Homo sapiens: one gene and its partner. The protein of the gene in region 1 purifies or fractionates together with the protein of each later gene. This does not show direct contact. Each region holds a gene or a part of one and is shown on either strand. Other genes may lie near its edges.

The links. Proteins that work in one complex are often made in the same cells at the same time.
Region 2: the proteins of PROSER2 (region 1) and STK26 purify together in Homo sapiens (affinity purification with mass spectrometry; 2 studies listed by BioGRID and IntAct, with this or other methods). This does not show direct contact.

The regions. Positions count from the first base shown.
Region 1 is NC_000010.11:11,861,356-11,864,855, forward strand, and holds part of PROSER2 (proline and serine-rich protein 2), read left to right. Parts: exon of another isoform or gene 1-52; intron 53-1,461; exon of another isoform or gene 1,462-1,687; intron 1,688-3,500.
Region 2 is NC_000023.11:132,060,272-132,064,801, forward strand, and holds part of STK26 (serine/threonine-protein kinase 26), read left to right. Parts: intron 1-3,161; coding exon 3,162-3,218; intron 3,219-4,530. UniProt on the Homo sapiens protein: Serine/threonine-protein kinase that acts as a mediator of cell growth. Modulates apoptosis. In association with STK24 negatively regulates Golgi reorientation in polarized cell migration upon RHO activation.

The DNA.
Region 1 (3,500 bases):
AGTTCCACACTCTAGGGCAGTTGCTGATCTTATCTGAAGCCCTCATTGGGTGGTAAGCTCTAGACAGCAGGAGCATGATTTATACTGTGGTACTGGATTGTGTGCTTAGCAGGTGCGTGTGTGTGGCTGTGATTCAGGGGATGCTGTGGGGGTGGGCTGAGGTTTGAAATCCGGCCGTGAAAGTAGGTGAGATGCAGCCGTGCACGGATGGGCGTCGCTGCCTTAGAAGCCGACATAGGAAGAGCCAGTGATGGACTTGAGCAGGGAGCAAGAAGCGACAAACCATAGCCTGTGGCCCGTAGCTGCCCCCACTCCGTGCTTTTGTAAATACAGTTCAGTGTAACAAAAGTGAGGCTCATTCCTTACCTTGGTAGAGTTGAGAAGCTGCTACCCTAAAGCCTGCACAGCCCAGAATATTCACTACCTGGCCCTTTACCAAAGAGTTGGCCATGCCTCCCGAGGAATATAAAGGAGAGAATGGTGGAAAGTTAACTGTGAAGGGTAGGCGGAGCCATAGCAAATACCTAGGAAGACATAGGGCAGAAAACGTGCAAGATGTCTACACTGGAAACTATGAGAAACATTGAGAGAAATTAAAGAGCCAGATCTGTGCATCTAAACTGTCAGCGCATCAGACTCCCTGGAGGCTGCGTCCAACACAGACTGACAGGCCCAGCGCCTGAGAGTTTCTAATGCGGCAGGTCTGGGATCGGACCCAGGAATGTTTCTGACAAGTTCACAGATGCTGCTTCTGGTCCAGACACCACACTTTGAGAACCACACATCTAAATAAATGAAGCCATGAGCCATATTCATGGGTCAAGAAAAGATCGCAGAGACATCAGTTCTCTGCAATTTGAGAAACTTTCATGCAAATCCCGCTTAAAGTCACCACAGGGGCATGCGTGTGTTTATGTGAATATGCAAATTGACAAACTGATACTAAAATTTATGTGGAAATAAAAAAGGACTAAGAAAGCTAAACAGACTTAAGGAAGACTTTAAGAACTCCAACAAAACTGGAGGACTCTGCCAGATATCAAGACTTACTATAGAATGGGCACAGTGGCTCATGCCTACAATAACACCACTTTGGGAAGCTGAGGCCAGAGGACTGCCTGAGCCCAGGAGTTCAAGATCAGCCTGGGCCATGTAGCAAGACTTTGTCTCTACAAAAAATATATAAAAATTAGCTGGGTATGGTAGTGTTTGCCTGTAGTTCCAGCCACTGGGGAGGCTGAGGTGGGAGGATCACTTGAGCTGGGGAGACCTAGGCTGCAATGAGCTGTGATTGTACCACTGCACTGTAGACTGGGCAACAGAGTGAGACACGGTCTCCAAAAAATCAACAAAAGGCATATACAAAACATCAATATTTCATTATGTATATGCAAATATTTCAAAATGTGAAAAAATCCAGAACACTTCTTATCCCAAACATTTCCGATGAGGAGTACTCACCTGTATTATGGAGAAAAAAAAGCTCAACATCATTAGTCTTCGTGGAAATGACACTGAAAATCACAGTGAAATATGACTGCATTCCTCTCCTTCAGGGCGCTAGAGCAACCAGCCCTGCCGAAAGCAAGTGTCAGTCAGTACAACCACTTCGGAAAGCTGTGTCCACCCACCCAAGCAGACACACATCTTCAGACCCGGCGATTGTGCATAGGTTTATATCCAACAGGTACGCATTGCTTATCTTCCCTAGCAATGTTCTGCCTGCCTACCTAACCCGTGCCTAGGTATCTCTCCTTTTCCTGAGACATCCTTCTTTCAGGATTAAGCTAATAAGACCAGGCTAGCTTGAGAAATTTGCATGTGTTCTTGTGTTTTCATCCCCAAAACAACAGTGTACTATGCTTTCAACTATAGTCTCTGAAATTGTGTAGACCACAGGCTCTGTATGGGCCTGGGAGTTAGATGCTTTGGGTAGGTGGGCATTTGAATACCTCTCAGATCACAGTGTGGAAAGCATCAGACTACACCACATGGATCAGCTCTCAATCACTTCTGATAAGACAAAAAAAATACATTAGCAGGGCACAGACGTGCACCTGTAGTCCCAGCATCTCTGGAGGCTGAGGCAGGAGAACCACTTGAGCCCTGGGGGCAGAGGTTACAGCGAGTCAGGATCGCGCCACTGCACTCAACAGCCTGGCAACGGGAGTGAAACCATCCCCCCCACAAAAAAAAAAAAAAGTACAGCAGAAGCAGAGTCCACACTCATAGCATTATAGAGTCAAATAGTCTATAAGGTTTATAAAAGCATCAGTCCGCATGTACCACCTCCATTTCCTACTCAATGGGAGGCAACAGCTCTTAACTCTACCTATTTGTTATTTACCTCCACTATTGACATATTGCTATATATCCTTTGTTTTTTTCATGTGTCTGTATTAAGTATGCACAATTTCAATCTGAGACAACTCTGTTATGGTGTCGGTGTGTATGTTGCTGTGCACAGATGATAGATAAATGCTTTCTCTCACATTAGTTTTTCTGTGGTTGCTCATGGTTTCGGTTTTGCTTGCATGGTTTCCTTTGCCACCCTTGGGCTTGTTGTGAACTAGACTACTTGCTGAGCGCACAGGTGGCTTCCTGGGGAGCCCTCGTTATTCTGGGATTCCCTGCAGCTTTCTCATGTGGACGCTTCTGTTACCTGGCTCCGTGTCTTCTGTCTGGGTTTACTCCGTGTTTAGAGGAACAGCTGCCCTTCCTGACTACCCTGCAGAGGCTTCCTCAGACAGGCTGACATGGGAGATCAGATTGAAGACCTTGCATGACTTAAAAACACCTTTATTCTTCCGTAGTTCTAATTAATAATCGGATTATGTATAGGATCCTAGTTCACAATTTATCCGGGTTTTGAGCCCCCATTGTCTCCCGGCTTCTGGTGTTGCTGCTGAGAAGTCTGTTGCTGTTTTCTGATTCCTGATCTTTTGTTTGTTTAAATTGTTTGGAAGTTATTTCAAACTTAATGAAGTTATAAGAATAGTACAGAGAACTCCCACCTACGCTTTAATTAGATTCACCAATTTTTAAATTTTTTCCACATTTTAACATGCGCTCTCTCTATATACACAACACACGCACACTTTATTTTTTCTGAACCATTTGAATGTAGTTGCTACATAATGCTCCCCTCAATACTGAAGTACATTTTAAAAACAAGGATACTATTCTCTTACGTAACTTAGGCAGTTATCAAATTCTGATTTCTGAATTTTTTTTTTCTTTTTTTTTTTTTTGAGACAGAGTCTTGCTCTGTCACCCAGGCTGGAGTGCAGTGGTGCAGTCTTGGCTCACTGCAACCTCTGCCTCCCAGGTTCAAGTGATTCTCCTGCCTCGGCCTCCTAAGTAGCAGGGATTACAGGTGCACACCACCATGCCCGGCTAATTTTTGTATCTTTAGTAGAGACAGGATTTTACCATGTTGGCCAGCCTGGGCTCGAACTCTGGAGCTCGAGTGATCCACCCACCTCGGCCTCCCACAGTAC
Region 2 (4,530 bases), on another chromosome or scaffold:
TAACCCTCAAACTAGGGAGGTAGCATTTGAACTAAGTCTTGAGAATGATTTTGATAGGGGTTGGAAGGTGCAAGTGGGGTAGGGACACAGCATTCCAAGCTGGAGGAAAATGACTCAGAAGTGGTAAATTTTCTAGCCATATTCTTGGCAAGATGATCTCTACTGTCACTTCCAGTTTTATAAAGTCTTATGTGCTGTATGTTTTTTTTAATCAGGCAAAATATACTTAACACTAAATTTGCCATTTTAAGTGTACAGCTCTCTGGCATTGGCTACATTCACATTGATTTTGTGTTTTTTTTGTTTGTTTGTTTTTTGGGTGGTTTTTTTTTTGTTTTGTTTTTTTGTTTTGCTTTTTTTTTGTGACAGGGTCTCACTCTGTCTCCCGAGCTGGAGTACAGTGGCGCAGTCTTGGCCCACTGCAGCCTCCACCTCCCAGGTTCAATTGATCCTCCCACCTCAGCCTCCCGAGTAGCTGGGACTACAGGCATATGCCACCACACCTGGCTACTTTTTTGCACTTTTTGTAGAGATGAGGACTCCCTATGTTGCCTAGACTGCTCTCAGACTCCTGGACTCAAGCGATCCTCCCACCTCGGCCTCCCAAAATACCAGGATTACAGGCGTGTTGTGCAGCCCTCACCACCACTGATTTCCAGAACAAATAAGGATTCCTTATTTTCAGATCTAGAAATTGAGTAGTTGTAATTTTAATGCTTAATGGTATATACTACTTTGTAAAGTCACATTTCAAGCTTTCTATGAACACGTTTTACTGACAGACAGTTGGCAAGTTTCTGTTTTGAATTAGTACAAACAAAAAGGCACACATTGTTTTTAACTTGGAAAACAGGTGCTTTCATTCATGCAGAACTGCAAAATAGGCAGGCATGTTTTATAAGATCTTTTTCTTTTAAATGTCAGGTGAATGGGAAGCTCTCTGAATTCATATGATAGAGTATAGTACTTGTTAGAAACAAACTTGTGGCAGAAGAAACAATTTTTAACCTATCCACCATTGTAAGAACCACTTTTTTCTTCTCTTGAAAAAAGTATAAAGGTACATCAGAGTCACAATTCTCAGGTTGCGAGTGCCTAGGTTCTATACACAAATACAAGTTATATGAACCTTTCCTGGAACTCCTCTTCCCTCACCAGTATTGTGGGAATTTATTTCCTCTATTTCCTAATGTAGACTTCACTGCTAACCAAGACTCTCAGCTTTCTGCTCACAGTGCCTGCTGGCCATCTATGTCAGGACAGAGTGGATGTCAAGATTAGTGGAGGAAGTGGTAGGGGAATATTGTTCCTCCCTTTCTCTTACAAATTCTACATAGTGTCAGCATATGGAAAGGAGAATCATTTTGTCTTAATTAACTGAGCCCTCCCTTCATGATCGCTAACCCTAGGCCACATCCCATTCCCCACACTACAATGTCAGTTCCACTCTGATTCTTCAACCCTCTCCCATCCCCTAAGCACTCATCATCATGTCACTGGGTTCCATTCTCTGCCTTGATAAAGTCACATCCTCATGGAGATGCCTGGAAATTTTAAATTGGACTCCTGAATACCTCCCAGGGATTTTTGAGTTTGAGGGCTACTGGCAGTAGCTTGAGAATCTTCACCCCGCAGCTGGGGTTGTAAAGGTGAGAAATGTGTTTCTGGCATCCCAAGTTGAGGCACCATGCTGAATATATTTTCCTACTTGAAATATTGTTAAGATATAAATAGTAGTGAGTTTCTCTGGTACTTTTTATGCTATACTACGAATGAATACATTTGTGTGAAATTGTCTTTTGGGAGGACTACCCCAGGAACTTAGACATTATTTTTATGGGAAAATGCTTGCTTTTAAAATTCTGAACATCTTACTTAAAAACCAACTTTTGGAACACAGTCCAGTCACTACTTGGCTGCTGCCAGTATAGTAAAGCCAACCATTCTACTTCCAGTCAGCTCTTTGGTCCCACAAAAATTCAGAGAATACCACTCATGAAATGGTATGGAGAGAGAGGTGTCCCTTGTATTTAAGCTATAGCTAAAATAAAAAGGGTTTAATGGTTTATTCCAGTGTTTAACTGATGGTACTGAATGGTATGTGTGTGTGTACACCTGTTTTAGAATTTGTATACATATATTCCTCCCAGGAGCCCCATTTCCTCTTGTTCAGCTCACAGGGAAGTTAATTCCACCTGGAGAAAGCACAGATTTTTAAAGCTACACTCTCCCTTTTTCTTATCCATTTACATCAGAGGTAAAATGAACAATATTCTTTCTAGGTTCCGTGTGTGCCAAAAATGCCCATTAACCGTAGCTGATAAAAGTTTGAAGTACATCAAAACAAATGAAAGCCAACAACTGAAATAAGGCAAAATATCCATTGTCCTCAAACTCAAACCCAAAATTTCTACAAGCCCTCATTTACCTCCTCATTCTTTAATGTAACTATCTTTTCTTTCCAATATCATTCAAGATAATTATTTAAAGCTTTGTTTTTTATAAAAATTACTAATAGTTCAACAATAACAAACAGTACTTTTATTTGTTTAGCTATATCATAGGCAAAAAGGTATGCGGGTAGTCTAAGCTCAGAATTTTAATTTGGAATGTTCTATGGAAAAAATATATTCGGGGTTCCCAAGCAACCATTTTTAAACCTACATTTTAGAATCTGTTCTTTATTTTTTTAATTTTTAATTTTTGTGGCTACAAAGAAGGTGTAAATATTTATGGGGGTACATGAGCTATTTTAATAAAGGCATATAATGTATAATGATCACATCAGGGTACATTTACTCTCTGTGTTACAAACAGTCCGGTAATACTTTTCTACTTATTTTTAAAAGTATAATTAAATTATTATTGACTATAGTCACCCTGTTGTGCTATCAAATACTAGATCTTACTCATTTTCTCTAACTACTTTTTGTACCCATTAACCATCACCAACTCCCCCTCCCTACTATCCTTCCCAGCATCTGGTAACCATCCTTCTATTCTCTATCTCCAAGGGTTCAATTGTTTTAATTTTTAGCTCCCACAAATAAATGAGAACATGCAAATAGAATCTGTGCTTTAGTATGTGAGATTTAACATTTTTGCTAGTATGTTATTTTGGCTCAGGTTTGTAATTATTAAATTGTTTCATGGCTTTACAGGGGTCTAAATTATGGATAATAATGGAATACCTGGGCGGTGGTTCAGCACTGGATCTTGTAAGTATTTTAAAATAGTTACACACAGATGCAAATGTGTGCATATGCACATACCTTAATTTTTTAAATTGAAGATTAATGGCTTTTGAGCACGCTAAGTGGTTGCTTTAGTTAATATGTTCAAATTAAATTCTTTTTTCATGACCTCTACCTTATGTAGGTACAGATGTATTGTACGTTTGAACATGTTGCTGGCATTCTAAGACTATATAAGAAATGCAAATAGCTTAATAAAATAAAGTCTCCCAAATTAGAAGGGGATGTGTGTATCCATTGCTGTCAAAGTTTGACTTTTGCAAGCTTATCCCTGAAAAAACTGAGTTTTCTTAGATTTTTAAAAAATATGTAATTGAGATAACTGTCACTAAAAGTGTTTTTTATGAACTGAATGTTTGTGTCCCCCCAAAATTCATATGTGGAAATCCTAACCCCCAATGTGATGGTATTAGGCGGTGGGGACCTTGGGACCTAATTAAGTCATGAAGGTGAGTTCTCATGAATGAGATTCGCACCCTTACAAAAGAGGCCCCAGAGAGCTCTCTGACTTTCTTTCCACCACGAGAGGGTGCAGTGAGAAGAAGGCCTTCTGGAAACCAGGAAGAGTGCCTTTACCAGACTCGAATCTGCCAGCCCCTTGATCTTGGACTTCTTTCCCAGTCTCCAGAACTGTGAGAAATATTGTTTAAGCCACCCAGTCTGTGGTATTCTGCTATAGCACCTGAATTGACTAAGATAGTGGTACTAGGGTTCTAAACAAGGTTGGCCTACAGATCCAGTTCTTCACAGAGTTCTCTCTGCCCCTCTATAGGTTATTTGGAAATGTGATGGCATTTGGGTTGTCACAATGACTTAGAAGTGCTCCTGCCATTTTTGTGGTCATGGATCAGAATGCTAAAATCCTGCAGTGTGCAGGAAAATTCAACCCAATGAAGATGCATTTACACACAGAATGCCTTTGAGAAACACTGGTTGTTCCCCAATTCAGTGTGATCCTATCAATGTTGAGTTTCTTTCCCTTCCTTAAAAATCTTTATTAATATGATACTATGTTTTAAAATTCAGTATGACTTATGAGAGGCAACTTAGTGTAGTAGAATGACCACTGGGCTGGCCTGGGGTGTTTGAGGTTATAGGTCTGGCTCTGTGCCTGTGAACCAGACACAAACTTCCTGGACGTAGGTGTTCTATAAAACAAAGAAGTTGCACTAAGTTATTTCTAAGTTCCCTTCCATCTTTAATATTATATTTTTTTTATTTGCGTGTTTCTGCCTTAGAAATTATAGAGTATGCTGTTTCTAAGAAAGTGTTTTGA